Regions from separate parts of the Homo sapiens genome. Here region 1 is linked to region 2. The links come from fine-mapping of genetic effects on gene expression. Tissue or cell type: whole blood. Region 2 holds a variant in brackets; the other region holds the start of a gene. All regions are shown on one strand. Distances are from middle to middle.

Evidence for each region. PIP is the estimated chance that this variant, and not a neighbour inherited with it, causes the effect.
Region 1: RPS6KA3 starts here. The variant in region 2 is fine-mapped to the expression of RPS6KA3 in whole blood (TOPMed, PIP above 0.99). The same link has a PIP of 0.9 or more in T cells and blood mononuclear cells.

What each region holds. Positions count from the first base shown.
Region 1 is chrX:20,263,773-20,271,879 of GRCh38, forward strand. It overlaps RPS6KA3 (ribosomal protein S6 kinase A3), which reads right to left and starts at 3,137. Exons shown (of 22, transcript NM_004586.3): 1 at 2,792-3,137. The coding sequence starts at 2,860. RefSeq lists an enhancer at 1,368-1,417 and silencers at 2,598-2,857, 2,978-3,197, 3,619-3,913.
Region 2 is chrX:20,182,674-20,190,780 of GRCh38, forward strand. RPS6KA3 (ribosomal protein S6 kinase A3) reads right to left here. Exons shown (of 22, transcript NM_004586.3): 8 at 5,824-5,861; 9 at 5,155-5,297; 10 at 3,623-3,693. Among named protein-coding and RNA genes, the nearest start is that of EIF1AX, 45 kb to the left of the region's middle. The variant G/T (reference allele first, on the strand shown) is at 3,670.

The sequences.
Region 1 (8,107 bases), 81 kb after region 2:
TCCACAATATGTCAGGGCCAGGCATTGTGCTGAATGCTGAGGATTCAGAGAGGGGGGGAAAAATGTCTGCTTTCAAGAATTCACAGTGTACTAGGGATGAGACCATAAATGTAAACTCCTACACAGACCAATCCTGAAATCTTTTAACCTGGAGAGAAATATTTTGATGTATTCACTCAAGTAAATGACTCTAAAAAAAACTATGTTACTCTGGTAAAATACAATTATCTGATAGGAACCTACTGGGGGAGGAAACGGTATAATAGTGAAAATATTAGACCTCTGAGTGGAACTTTTCAACCTTTCCCTCACTGTCTTCAATATTTCCAAATTGTATCAGAAGTAATTTACTTGAAATAGCTGAACAAGCAAAGGAAATTAAATATCTAAAGGCAATTTGTTAGAATTTAATTTTAATAAATCTTGGCAACACTGGCTCTGTTTGACATACTTTATGCCAGGATAGCAAGAAAATTCTTTGAAAACAGCAAATTGTGGAATCCTATCTGTCAAGTTCTGGAAAACATGATAGTAACTGAAATAACAAGGCTTTACCAAATGAGACCTCTTATAATACTCTATTTGTTTCTGGAAAATAGATGACCTCTAACTACTGGCTTATTTATACCCCGAATTTTTCCACAAAAGATTTGGAACAGCTACCCTGATATAAAACGAAGCACATGAATTGTATCCACCTGGCTTTGAATTATGGCTCTGCCATTTACTATTTATCATCTTTGTACCTTTTAAATTCTGAGATTTGGTTTCCTAATCTATAACAATGGGGACCATAATCCTACCCTGCTGGGTCACAGGAAGGATAAAATGAAATAGTAATGTAGCACAGTACCTGGCATACAGTTGGTGCTAAATAAATATGTTTTGTCCTTCCTTATCCAAATGCATTCCAGATAGAAAAAGGATAAGGTGGAATTCTAAACGATATTGTTTTCCTATCACACTGATACATGCCAAGCAGAAATGTGGACTGATCTTGAGTTGCAATTGTTAATGTTTGTATGTAAAAGTCAGGCTCAAAGCAAATTTAATTTCTTTCCACAAGTTCAGTACTTTGCGAACATTTTATTAACCTTTTAGCTATATTATTTAATGCAAAAAATTTTCTGGGGAAAAATATGACGAGCTCTTGCATACTGTTTTTCACACTACCCATCTAAAGGATTATTAAACATCATAAATTTGGCTTTTTAATAAAATATTTATAGTATTAGTCTGGTTAACAATTTTAAATAAAGTTCTTGTGATTCTGCCAGTCTTAAAAACATGATTTCCTTTCTTTCTTTCCTTTTCTTTCAACATATATCAATGTCTTTTCCATTGAAGAGCAGCATTTAGTTCAGGTTTTACAAGTATGATCCAAGTCGCAAAATACTAAGCACCAATCATAAGCACTATTACAACTCTGCGTGCGTTAAGGAGAACAAGCAAAATTGTTATACAGCAGCGGAGGTGACTGGGGGAAAAAGTGAAAAGCGATTTGAACTGATCCCCCGCCCTCTCCATTATACCGGAGAATGCAAGTGTCCCGCATCTCAAGATTAAACTGAGCCTCGGTTTTACTGACGTAACCAGTAACCCTATCTACTTCTCACACTGCGGAGGCCGGCAGGGCAGCGGCTGCCGCCAAGCACACCACTCATCAGAGCCTGCCCCGTTCCACCCCCGCGTTTCAGTCATGCTTTCCAGAAATGGGGTCACTCACTCAGTAACTATTACACACACGCAGCCTATCATCCTGTAATCCCCTAAAGTCCGCTGCGGGGAGAGAAGGCAGCAAAAAGTCAAGAAGGAAGAATCACAGACGCGCCACCATCAGGAATTGATTTTCCACTCCGGAGAGGAGCGGTGATACCTTGGAACGGGTCTTGTCTGGATTATTTTCGCAGACCCCGAGTTGTTCTGGGATAGGGGCGGTTCAGGAAAGCTCGGTGTAGTGATGCGCCCGGGGAAATTCTGTTTTGCCCTGTTTGGGTATATTGTTTGGGTTTTGGGCACTAGGATGGGTGACTCAGGGACGGTCACCAGATCCCGGGCGAGGAAAACCAGAAAGCCTTTTACGGCGGCCGCTGATCTCCTTGAATATCACCCTCTCACCTCCATGGACAGGAAACTCAAGTTAAACTCACAGGGACGGGGGTCTAGCTCTGCGACCTCAGAAACGGAGGGGGTAGGGGACCTTAGGCTTCCGCTTTCTTCTTTGCAGCAGCAGAAACCGCTGCGGCAGACGAGGGGGAGGCAAAACCCTGCACCCCCTACCCGAAACCCCCACAGGTCGCCGCCGCCCGTGCCCCGCGCGCCGGTCTCCCCGCAGCAGCCCCTCCCTCGGCTGGACTCGAGAGTCCCTGCTCCCCGGTGAACCCGATCCCTACCCCTCCCTCATCTCCCAAAGTCGCCAAGGTCCGGGAAAGCCCCCGACCCGGCTGGGCCAAACTTCCCAACTCCCCGCCGGCCCCCGCTCCGCCTCCCGCTTCCCCCACGCAAAGTTGATTAAAATTGGCTTCTTGCAAAGCCCCAGCGCCCACTCCAAACCCCACGCGCCACCACACTGGCAGCCCCCCGAGCGAGGGAAGGAGGTGAGGGTGAGGATGGAAGGAACAGACAGACCGGCCAATAGACCCACCCCAACAACCCAAACCAAAACCCTGAGCCCGGGGGAAAGACGCGAGCGGGATCAGAACGGGCCGAGTGGCCAGCTCCGGGGAGCGAAGCGAGCCGGCGGGGGCGCGAGGAGGAGATGCGCCGGCCCCGGCCGCCCTGCTGCACTCACCTCAGCGCTGTCGGACGGGCTCTCCACAGCCATCTTCTGCCACGGGTCCGCCAGCTGCGCCAGCGGCATCTTCCCCCCCGGCCCGCCGCCTTCACCGCCTCCTCCCTCCCCGCCCGCCCCACGGCCGGCCCCGCTCCGTCGCCGCCCGAGCCCCACGGCAGCGGCGGCGGCGGCGGCGGCGGCGGCAGCGGCAGCGGCAGCGGCAGCAGCAGCAGCAGCGGCGGCGGCCCCAGAGAGGGCTCGACGCCGACGCCGACCGCCCGAAAGCCGCGCGCCTGGCCAGAGACGCCCGCGCGCTGAGCGAGAGCCTCGCGCCTCCGCTGGGCACCGGGTCTCGCCCCTTTCTTCCTCTCCTCCTTCCGCCGCCGGGACTACGGCTCCGCCCCCCCCGCCGGTTCCCGCGCCCGCTCCCAGCAGAACAGCGACCGCCGCGCGCTCCCCCACTTCCGCTCACAACATGGCGCCTAAGCGATACCTGTCTCTCAAAGCGAGGCTCGGCCGCCGCCACCACCGCCGCGCGCACCCAGGGGCTGGGCTAGTGGAAGACACGCCCCCGGCCGCTGCGCTCCGCTCCTCCCTCTTCCCACCCCCCTCCTTCTGCGCCCCAACCTCAGCTTCTGGGCCTCGCCTACTTTCAGGAAGGGCGAGCCCAACAGATCTGGGGGCGTCGGCGGGAGGCGGGGGAAAGAAATGGGAAAGGCAGGAGGGGCGAAGGCTGGGAGCCTTTCACCGCCAAGGGTCCAAGGAGGTCGGAGGCTCCTTGGGAATGAGGGAGAACAGTGGTCCCCGCCCAGCTGGGGAGGGAGGTGGGCAAAGTACCGGGGGCGCAGTCCCGAGCCAAGGACCCGGGGAGGGGTGCGGAGTGTCTTTTCGGCTTGTCTCCTCCGGGGGTGCGTGCGTGCGGACGCGCCTAGTCTCTGGGCGCATCCCGTAATGGCCCAAGACCCTCCCTCTTCAGGGTCACATGCTGGGAAATCACCTGCCCCCCATCTCCCCCGACGGAGGCAAGGGAGGCTTCGTGCCTAGGAGCCTCCTGGGGGCTCGGCTCCCGGTTTGATTCAAGTCTTTTCAAGTTGACGCTCTTTTGTTAAATTGTGGCTATTTGGGATTAATTCCTCTTGTATTAGTCGCTTCCCCCGCACCGCCCCCAGCCCAAATTCTCCTCCCCAAGTGCGCAGAGCTCTCGGCCTTCAGCTGCGACCCTGGAACCGCTGCCCCCCGCCCCACGTCTGCTACCTAAATCTTCAAGAGGGGAAAACAGGGAGGTTCCTTAAGGCTGTCCCTCTCGGTAGAGGTTGGAGAATTATTTAAAAATATCTTGTAGGCAGGAGCGCGGGGTTCCTGCTCCTCTGTTGACTTTAAATAAGAGATTAGATTTAAAAATCAGGCTGGCCGTGGGCGGAGGAGGAGGAGGAGGGGGACAGAGGGAGGGGAGGGGTTCTGACTCCTCCTCCTGCCCAAGATGGGGAAGCCCTGGATTAAGGAAACCCAATGCCCCGACGGCGACGGAGCCCCACAGGACGGCGAGAGCTTTGGGGGGAAGGCCTGGGCGTCCGGGGTGCGTCCCAAGAGGACTCGACCCTGTGTTCACTGCGCCAGGAGCCGCTGCGCGCTAAGTGCGCCCGGGCAGAAATGTGTAAAAGTCGCAGGGCTGAGTGGAAAGCTACTGCAGCCCCTGGCTAGTCGCCCAGCGAGGGGAAGAGAAAAAGCAAAGGGAGATCTCCGAGCCGGCCTGTCCCTTCAAACCCTCAGGCCGTGGCCCAGGCATCCCGGTCTTCCCACGCCCAGCGACCACGGCGCGTCCGCTGCTGCGCTCCCAGCGCACGCCTATTAACAGCTTCCTTTCATCCTCCCGGGACCCAGACACCTGGAGAACCCTCGCCTGCCTCCCTAAGCAGGTGTGAGGATGAGATTAGAGCCCCAAACCCAGCCGGCCAGGTCTGCGCGGGCGGTGCGAGGTTTCTCGCTGGGCCTGCGAGAGGCAGGTGTTGGGCTCTTTCTGCTGCCTTCGCCAGCGCGCCCCTTGGCACAGGCTCGAGGCCGGGGAACCTCGTGGCCATTTAGGGAGGCTCCAACTGTTTAGGGAGCCTGAGAAGGCGGCAGGAAGTCCTCGTTGCGCGCCTTCTCCCGAAGCTTTGGACTCAGGGGGACCGCTCAGGTTGGACAACATCTGGGCAGACTCAACGTGGTCTGGGGAAGAAGGCGAATGGGGCCACTTGGCTCTTGCCTTTGTCACTTCCCTTCACATGCTATATTCAGGTGTTGCAAATCCAACCTGGGCCCAAACTCAGCTAATTTGGCAGCACCTTCTCTGTGTAATTCCCGACGGTAAAACGTGCTTGCAGAAGTTTGGAGGATAAGGAGTTGTGTACTATTTTGCATTTATGTACAAAATGCTTTATTCATTTACATTGCAGAGTCACATGACCACTCCTTATAGCGAAAAGAAGTTCGTTAATTCGGTTGGCTTAAAGTAAATTAGCTCCCCCTACCCTTTGATCAATTATTTCAGTTAACATTCTTGCATTAGTAAAAACATACATAGTTGAAGAGAGACCGTTATGTGGCTAACACTGTTCAGTGCTAATTACCCCCACGCAAAGAATGAATATTTTAAAATAAAGCAAATTGTATGCCATTTTCAGTATCAACTTTTATTCATCTCTGTTAACCTTGAGAACCAGAGGAATAACTTTTAAAACAGAGTTACCTGATCTGTAAAAGTAATGTGAGCGGTGGTCACGTTTCAGTGAATTAAGCATTACATGAACTGTTAATAATGGGTTAAAGTGGCCGGGTGCGGTGGCTCACCCCTGTAATCCCAGCACTTTGGGAGGCCCAGGTGGGCGGATTACCTGAGCTCAGGAGTTCCAGACTAGCCTGGCCGACATGGTGAAACCCGGTCTCTACTAAAAATACAAAATTAGCCGGGAGTGCACACCCGTAATGCCAGCTACTCGGAAGACTGAGGCAGGAGAATCGCTTGAACCCGGGAGACGGAGGTTGCAGTGAGCCGAGATCGTGCCATTGCACTCCAGCCTGGGCGACAAGATCAAAATTCTGTCTCAAAAACAAACAAACAAACAAACAAACAAACCAGTTAAAGTACCACTACCACAGATGTCTTGCACAGAGGATCAATTTGATAAGTATTTATGAATTGATTGAATTTATTTAGAAGAACATTATTCTTCCTTTTGCCCCAAAAGCAAAGAAAATGATTTTTTGTTGTTAACAATAAACTTTTTCTCTTTTATTTCTTCTATTAAATCCAAGAGCAGTGCAACCACTCTCTTTGGTTAGGAGAATTTGGAAAAATCAAATGAGGCTGGAGGATTTTTCTTGAAGGTGGTAGCAAAAAGAGTTACTTGAACATAGAAGCTGATATTGCCCTAAGCAGGATTACTTTTCCCCTCTGTTTAACAAAGGAAAACTCTAAGTGTAGCTGTTCAAAGAATAGCTGCCTCAGATCGCCAGACCTGCATGGGTTAATACGGTGGTTAGTAGCCACACATGGCTACTGAGCACTTCAAATGAGGTTGGCTGGTCAAAGTTGAGATGTGCTGTAAATGTGAAGTTCTTTCTAGATTTCAGACTTAGTAAAAAAAAAAAAAAAAGAATATAAAGTATCTCATTAATAATTTTTTATATTCACAACATGTTGAAATGATATTTTTGATATATTGGGTTAAATAAAATATTTCATTAAAATTAATTTCACCTTTTAAAAACTTTTTAATGTGGCTACTATAAATGTATACTTACATATGTGGCTTTCGAGACTTTTATGTATTCCTACAAGTCATATAATGTTAAGTGATATCTTCAGATTCCAATGTCTTTTTGGCTTCCTTAGTGCAGAATCAGCAGAAAGGGCTGATTCAGTTACCTACTGATCCCCACCCTCCCCAACAAATCTCCCAGTCAGAACCAAAATATTGGAAAGTTCTTACTTGAAACTACAGTAGAGCGAAACAGCAAACCTCAGTAGAAAATCTGAAGGAGGTTTCCAAGAAATCATTCCTAATGTATGACGGGACAACTAGATTTAACCTCCTCTGCCCCCAACAATTTCCTGCTATAATTATAACCTTTGTATACAAGTTTAAATGGGCATTTATTTAACAAAATAACATTTGTTCAAAAAATAGAGTTACATCAGTCTGGAAAAGTTGCAAGATGACTAACTATGGCTCATGGCACAATCTCTACCTCATATACATCCAAAGTTCACAGCTCTGTACATATAGATTTGTCACTACTGTAGAAAATCCCAAAAGTGTAATCATCATCACCTCTAGGAAAAAGTTTTTTCCTTTCATCTGGATTATCCAAATTATATTATCCAAAGCATATTTATTTCGATTCATATTTATCCAAAGCCTATTTATTTTTTCACAAAAAAAGGAAAGGTAATAGCCAGAGACTATTTAACTTTCTTTTCAGAGAGAAAGAAAGGTAAGATTTAGGCTCAAATCTTATCTCATATAAGACAATAGTTTAACAAAATACATGGTTACATATGTTTCATGTGTGTGAATTTTGTTTTTTCCTTGAAATGTCTCCAATAAAAATTATTAAGGCTATTTTCCTGATTGACACAGATCTTAAAGAACAGGCATTTCTACATCAATTTGAACATTTTATTTGAGAAAATTCAAATTTTGGAAAATGTAAGGTTCTAGGTTCCCTTCCAGATACAAAGTTCAAAGATTTTAGAGTTGCATATGATGAAAGACAGTAAAATCTATAAAGGTGAAGACAATCTATAATACAAATACATGAAATGTTTAACATTCTTTCCAGTTAGGCAGGATGGGGTCATGATAAGAGCAGAGACAGGCCTGTGTCCAAACTTCAGGATTCTTTATCTTAGCTTCAGCTTTGCTTAGACCGGCATGTAGTTGCTGTTCAACAAATATTTGCAGAATAAACTTTGTTTTTCTCATCTGAAAATAGGAATAATAATACTTGCCTTGTATGATTGGTGGGAAGATTAAATGGAGGTAATGTCTGTAAAGCATTAAGCATGGTGCCTGCCACATAGGAAACATTCAATAAATGGAGGTATTGTTATCAGCTGCAGAAAGGGAGTACTCCTGCATACATAATGTAATTCAAATATCTCACTCTTGAAAGTTACCTCGTTCCATTTGCTGTGTGAGCATTTTATTGTAGTGTGATCTATTTCTTTAGGGCACTCTTGTATCACAAAAAATGATACTGTAAGTAACCTGTGAAATGCAAATAAAAGAATGTAGAGCAACTTACTCTTCTGTTTTTTGAGCTACATATGTTGAAATGCAAATGATTACA
Region 2 (8,107 bases):
ATGTGTGAGTAACTAGATTCTTTTAACATGGGTGCATGTCTAGGAGTGGGAATTACTGGATGAGGGTATACATATATTTGTCTTTAGAAGATAAGGACAAAAACTGCTTTCCAAAGTGGTTATATGAGTATTGATATTCCTTCCAGCTATGTATAAAAGTTGCCACTGCTTCACATCCCACCATTTTGTACTGTCAGTCTTTTTATTTTTATTTATTAAAATTTTTGTATAGGGCAGCAGTCTGGGCCAAAAATGGTTCAGAATGCTCCTGTCAATCTTTTTAATTTTAGCCATTCTGGTGAGTATGCAGTGATATTTCCTTGTGATTTTAATTTGCATTTTCTGATTAACGAGGTTGAGTATCTTTTCATAAGTTTTTTGGCCATTGAATATCCTCTTCTGTCAGATCCCTAAGTCTCTTGCCCATGTTTTTATTGGGTTGGCTTTTTCTTATTGATTGGGGTTCTAGATAGATTGGTAATGATTTTTATGTATGGTGGAAGGTAGGAATTTTAAAAAAAATTTTTAATTCTTTTAAAGCAAATTTTTTTTGAGACACGATCTTGCTCTATTACCCAGGCTGGAGTGCAGTGGCATGATCATGGCTCACTGCATCCTTGACCTCCTGGGCTCAAGCGATTCTCCCACCTCAGCCTCCCAAGTAGCTAGGACTACAGGTGTGCACTACCACACCTGGATAATTTTTATATTCTTTAACTCATGGCCTCAAGTGATCCTCCCACCTCAGCCTCCCAAAGTGTTTGGATTACAGGTGTGAGCCACCACTCCCTGCCTATTTTTTATACGAATATTTAACTTTTCCAGCATGATTTATTAAGAAAAGGCTATTCTTTCCCTACTGCTCTGAAATTCCCAATGGTCGCAAATTAAGTGTCCACATATATAGATCTGTTTCTGGGTTCTTTATTCTTTTGCATAGATCTACTTTCCACACTTGTTTCAATGCTGTATTATCTTAGTTACTGTTATAATAAGACTTAATACCTGGTAAAGCAAGTCTTCCTATCTTGGTCTTCGAGAGTATTTTAGCTACTCTTTGTCCTTTGTATTATCATATTAGAATCAGTTTATCAAGATTCACATTAAAAAGTTGTTAGGATTTTAATTTTATTTGCATTGAAACTATAGTTTTGTCATCCATTATAGTAGCCACTAGCTACATATGGCTACTGAGCACCTGAAATGTGCCAATCCACATTGTAAGTGTAAAATACACATTGAATTTCAAATGAGTATGAAAAAAATTAGTTTACAACAAATACCTCAATCAATTTTTAACATTGGTTACATGCTGAAATAACATCTTGGGTACACTGGGTTAAATAAAATATTACAATTAACTTTCCTTTTACTTTTTTATTTTTTTTATTTTTTGAGATGAATTTCATTCATCACCCAGGCTGGAGTGCAGCGGCATGATCTTAGCTCACTGCAACCTCCGCCTCCCGGGTTCAAGTGATTCTCCTGCCTCAGCTTCCCAAGTAGCTGGGATTACAGGTGTGTGCCACCACGCCCAGCTAATTTTTGTATTTTTAGTAGAGACAGGGTTTTGCCATGTTGGCCAGGCTGGTCTCGAACTCCTGACCTCAGGTGATCCACCCGCTTTGGCCTCCCAAAGTGCTGGGATTACCTGCCTCTTTTTACTTTTTTAAATGTAGGTACTAGAAAACTTAAAATTACGTATGTGGTTCGCATTACTTTTCTTTTTTTTTTTTTTTTTTTGAGACAGGGTCTCGCTCTTCACTCTGTTGCTCAGGTTGGAGTGTAGTGGTGTGATCAGGGCTCACTGCAGTCTTGACCTCCCAGGCTCAAGTGATCCTCTCACCTCAGCCTCCCAAGTGGCTGGGACTACTGGCACGTGCCACCACATCTGGCTAATTTTTTTATCTTTTATTTTTGTAGAGATGGGGTTTTGCCATGTTGCCCAAGCTGGTCTCAAACTCCTGGGCTCAAGCAATCTGCCCACTTCGGCCTCCCAAAGTGGTGGGATTATAGGCATGAGCCACCATGCCTGGCTGGTTCACATTATATTTCTAGTGGATAACACTGATCTATAAAAATGTTATCTTTACAACACTGGGTCTGTCATAACATGAACATGGTATATTCTTTCAAGTTATTTTGGTCTTTTAAAATTTCTTTAAATAAAATTTTCTGGTTTTTTTGCACAGAGGTCTTACACAACTTCTGCTAGATTTATCACTAGGTATCTGAGAATTTTTACATTGTTGTAAACACTGTCCTCTTTGAAAATTCCATTTTTTTTTTGAGATGAAATTTCACTCTTATTGCCCAGGCTGGAGTGCAGTGGCATGATCTTGGCGCACTGCAACCTCTGCCTCCCGGGTTCAAGTGATTCTCCTGCCTCAGCCTACCGAGTAGTTGGGATTACAGGCACCTGCTACCATGCCCGAATAATTTTTTCTATTTTTAGTAGAGACAGGGTTTCGCCATGTTGGCCAGGCTGGTCTCGAACTCTGGACCTCAGGTGATCTGCCTGCCTCGGCCTGCCAAAGTGCTGGGATTACAGGTGTGAGCCACTGTGCCCGGATAAAAATTCCATTTTCTATTCCTAGTATAGAGACATGGAATAGATTTTTGTTTATTGACCTTGTATCCAGTAACTTTGCTAAACTCTTATTAATTCTAAGAATTTATATGATCACTGGATTTTCTTTTCTTTTCTTTTCTTTTTTGAGACAGGGTTTTGCTCTGTCACCCAGGCTGGGGTGCAGTAGAACCATCTCAGCTCACTGTAGCCTCAAGCTCCTGGGCTCAAATGATTCTCCTGTCTTAGCCCCCATCTGCCACCCCACAAAGTAGCTGGGACTACAGGTGCTTACCAACATGCCTGGCTAATTTTTGCATTTTTTTGTAGAGATGGGGTTTTGCTATGTTGTGCAGGCTGATGACTGGATCTTCTATGGATACAGTCATGTTATCTAAATAATGATAATTTTATTTCTTCTTTTTAAACCTTATACTTTACTTTTTTGCTTGACTTACCATATTGGCTAGGACTTCCAGGACAATGTGGACAGAAGTGAAATAATGGGCATCCTTGCCATATTACAAATCCCAAAAGTAAAGCTTTCAGTATTTCACTATTAACATGAAGATAATATGAGTACTCTAAATCTACGCAGTCTGTTCATATTCAAACCACGTAATATTGATGAATTTCTTAGTTATTTCTTATACTACAGCCAACACTCTAAAATCTCATTTTTTAGTGTGAAACATTTATTTTATTTTACTTTTTTGAGATAGAGTCTCGCTCTGTTGCCCAGGATGGAGTGCAGTGGTGTGATATCAGCTCACTGCAACCTCCACCTCCCGGGTTCAAGGGATTCTCCCACCTCAGCCTCCTGAGTACTGCTGAGACTACAGGTGTGTACCACCATGCCCGGCTAAGTTTTGTATTTTTAGTAGAGATGGGGTTTCACCATGTTGGCCAGGCTGGTCTCAAACTCCTGATCTCAAGTGATCCGTCTTCCTTGCCCTCCCAAAGTGCTGGGATTACAGGCATGAGCCACAGCGCCCAGCCTGAAGCATTTATTTTAAAATCTCATCAAAACATCTATATTAAGGGAGTACTTACTTAAGAATCATAGTCATTGTTTCTTTTCGATCTTTTCCTTGGAAAGG[G/T]AGTGTACCAGTAAGCATTTCAAACTACAGAAAGGCAAAATAATCAGAAGTGTTAGTCAATAAATATAAAATCTGAAGGCCAGAAGGTAAAAAAAAAAAAAAGCATCATTTTAATTATAACCAAATATTCTAAAATTGCTACATAACAAGTGTTTTCTATTTCTACCATATTCGTTACTGAAGTTCTTGATAATTCCTAAAACAACTGAGCTATACAGTTTTTTTTTTTTTGTAGAAATCAATCACATTTTTATTTTATTTTTTTTTTGAGACAGGGCCTGGCTCTGTTGCCCAGGCTGGAGCCCAGTGGTGCAATCTCAGCTCACTGAAGCTTCCATCTCCTGGGCTCAAGCAATTCTCCCACCTCAGCCTCTCAAAGTGCTGGGATTAGAGGCATGGGCCACCATGCTCAGCTTCATCAATCACATTTCAAATGGCAATTTTAAAGTGTAGATATGTGAACAATTTGATAGATATGCCAATTTCATATGAACTTATTTATTTTTTTTGAGACGGAGTCTTACTCTGTCACCCAGGCTGGAGTGCAGTGGCACGATCTTCACTCACTGCAATCTCCGTCTCCTGGGTTCAAGTGATTCTCCTGCCTTAGCCTCCCAAGTAGCTGGGATTACAGGTGTGTGCCACCATGCCTGGCTAATTTTTTGTAGTTGTAGTAGAGACAGGGTTTCACCATGTTGTCCAGGCTGGTCTTACAGGCATGAGCCACCACGCCCAGCCTGATTTTTGTATTTTTAGTAGAAACGGGGTTTCACCATGTTGGCCAGGCTGGTTTCGAACTCCTGACTTTAAGTGATCCACCTGCCTCGGCCTCCCAAAGTGCTGGGATTACAGGCGTGAGCCACCGCGCCCGGCAGAACTTACTATATATTTTTTGAGACAGAGTCTCGCTCTGTTGCCCAGGCTGGAGTGCAATGGCATGATCTTGGCTCACTGCAACCTCTGCCTCCCAGGTTCTAGCGATTCTCCAGCCTCAGCCTCCTGAGGTGTGTGCCATCCTGCTCAGCTACTTTTTGTATTTTTAGTGGAGATGGGGTTTTGCCATGTTGGCCATGCCGGTCTTGAACTCCTGACGTCAGGTGATCTACCCGCCTCAGCCTCCCAAAGTGCTAGGATTACAGGTGTGAGCCACTGCACTCGGCCAAACGAACTTATTTTAAGGGTCACTTACTAACAGATTTCTGGACCAGTTTCTCCAAAAGACCAAACACCATTAATGCTTTAGATTGTTACTATTAGCAGGAAATCTATGGTAATATTTTTTTTTGCCCTTTCAAATTAGGATGAGATAGACGCAGCTAACAGATTTCATAGTCCTTCTATACTGCATGCAATAATGTTTCTTGGTTATTTATTACATATGGCATAAAATAAAGAAAATAAAAACACCAGTTTCTTTAACATTCACTGCTGATCCTCACTTAACAATCTCCTTCCCCTCTAAAAAATCCCAAATTCAAACCTTACCATTAACACACCAAAAGACCACCAGTCAGCACTCTGAGTATGACCTCGACGATTAACTACTTCTGGAGCCATATACTCCACAGTTCCACAAAAAGAATATGCCTTCTTTTCATGGTCAATAGACTCTTTACTTAGGCCGAAATCTGCCAAAACAAATATCATAAATATCCTACATAAATTTGCACATGTAAATTTTAAACTTTGAGTTCTGACATTAATCATTTAAAATTTCTAATACAAGTTTTTTTTGTTTGTTTGTTTTTTGAGACAGAGTCTCGCTCTGTCACCCAGGCTGGAGTACAGTGACGCCATCTTGGCTCACTGTATCCTCTGCCTCCCGGGTTCAAGTGATTCTCCTGCCTCAGCCTCCCAAGTAACTGGGATTACAGGCGTGCACCACCATGCCCAGCTCATTTTTTTGTATTTTAAGTAGAAACAGGGTTTCACCATGTTAGCCAGGCTAGTCTTGAATTCCCGACCTCAAGTGATCCACCTGCCTCAGCCTCCCAGAATGCTGGGATTACAGGGGTGAGCCACTACGCCTGGCCCTAATACAAGTTTTTAATTTTAATACAGTGTATTACTCAATATTTGTACCACAATCAACCTTAAAGGAAAGTATATATTGTAGGAGAAAATATTTTAATAAAACGAGGATTTTTTTTTTACCTGTTAACTTGATGTGACCTTCTTCATCAAGAAGTATACTGAAAAAAACAAAGAAAATCTTTTAAGAACACTAAATAGAGATTTATAGAAGCTAAGACTGAAATTACATCCTTAAGCATCAGATCACCACATTTACTCTAAAACATTGCTTTAGACTGTGAATAAGATGGCAAAGGCAAAGGAGGAACAAATTATTTTTTGGACACACATTTATAACAAAGCCCAAAGGCAATGCCATAAACTTGTATTAATATGCCAGGGGCACTTGAAAATTATTAGGAAAAGAATCAAATCACCTGTACTCTTCCCAGCTGCTCTTTCTAATGCCTTTCTGCAGACGTAGTTTGACTAAACCCCCTAGTGCCTGCATTAATAGACAGAGGGTCCACACATTTAATTCAAAAACATCAGACATGTCATTCTCTTGGTTATTTTATTTTGCCTTTTTTTCCTTTTTGTGGAGAATAGGGTATCACTATGTTGCCCAGGCAGGTCTTGAACTGCTGGGCTCAAGCTATCTTCTTGCTTCTGCCTCCCTGAGTGCTGGGATTACTCCCTAAGGTGTGAGCCACTGCGTGCCCAGCTCTCTTGGTCATTTTAAAGGTATCTGACTCAATCATTGTTTCCTTATTTTTTTTTTCCTGACACAACCTACACAATCCTCTTCTCCTTCCCCATACTCCTTGTTTTTCATTGACCCCTCCCTTCACTATACATATTCTCCAGGGTTTTCTCTCTTCCCCAATAAACTGTGAGCTCCTAGAAGGTTTGACCTTATTCATCTTTATAGCTCAGTGTCTGGCAGTGTACAGTACAAACAAGAAATGTTGAATGAATAAGGCCTGTTTGCAAAGGGCCTACAGGGCATTCCAAATAGTTTGGGCTTCTTGTCAAGGACAAGGGAGACCATAAATGGTGTACATTCATGGAGGGTAGAGAAATTTACAGAGAAAATAAAGGGCATTTAGTGAGCTCACTGGGTCATGATAAAGAACAACTGGAGAATGACACTCAGGTTTCTGGCTTGAGCAGATACTTGAGTGGAGAGTAATGCTATTAATCAAGGAGCTACAGAAAGGAGAGAGTACTAAGCTGTAAGCCAATAATTGTGTTAAGTTGGTGCAGAAGTAATTAAAAGTAATGGCAAAAACTGCAATTGCTTTTGCACCAACCTAATATTTCTGGATAGGTATGGGATCAAGCAATAAACTGTTTCACTTATATTTAAAGCTATCCCACAATATAGGCATTTCCTTACTTTTATTTTAACTAAAAATGTGCAAGTCAAACTTTGTTATAAAATTTTACTATAACAAAAATATTACCAATCTTTCTATTTCATAAATGCAAACATAATTACAACAAAGTTTACCACTGAAGGTAATTCAGTAGGGACATGTTTTTCAAGTTTCTTTTATCATAAGCACCTGTTATGAAAAATATTAATATTGATTCTGCTTGATTATGAAGAGATCAACACATTTAGAGAGTATAAAGGGCATTATTAGGTACTGTAGAAATCATCCTCCCTTCTAGTGAATACATGAAAAACAGTTCTAAAAACAAAACTTCAAGTCATTCTCGGTAATTCTGAAAGAAAAAAGGATAATATGGCTGAAAGGGCATTAGTTACGCCTTCTGTAGCAAATGCATTCTTCTAAGATAACCATGCTTATACTGTATCTTTGAAAGAAAAAGTCAACTGTATCACTCTCAATAAACAACATTCCTTTTCAATGGTTACTAATTTTTAGTCATATTTATTACAACAGAGTTCTAGTTTAAAAGAATCTGAAAAACCCTTAACAGTTCATAAAATATTTGGCCTAAAAATTTAAATTTCTCCCAAGTTCTGTATGATGGTATTTACTTGTATAATTCACCAAGTAAGTGTTATTTCTAATTAATAGCATCATCTAGACATGTATGTTTAAGATCTTAATATAAGCAATCTTATTTACATCTGATCTTATTAAAGCCTTGAGACAGGGCTCATACTTTAATGTAACTTTATGACCAATGCCAATACAATGGTCTATGGTAAATATATTCAATTAAATAGTATAAAACACACATTTTTATGAATGTTTAATCTTATGTTTATAGTAATTTTTCTAAGGACTATATGCTTGAATATTCATTCTCACCAATAATTATATTTTGTGTCACAATAGTTATAAGTTGGGAAAATAATCAGGAAAACTCAGCAGTTATTTGGGGAATAAAAACAAAACCATATGAAACTTATCCAAAAACAATAAAAAAAACATAAAATATAAAAGCA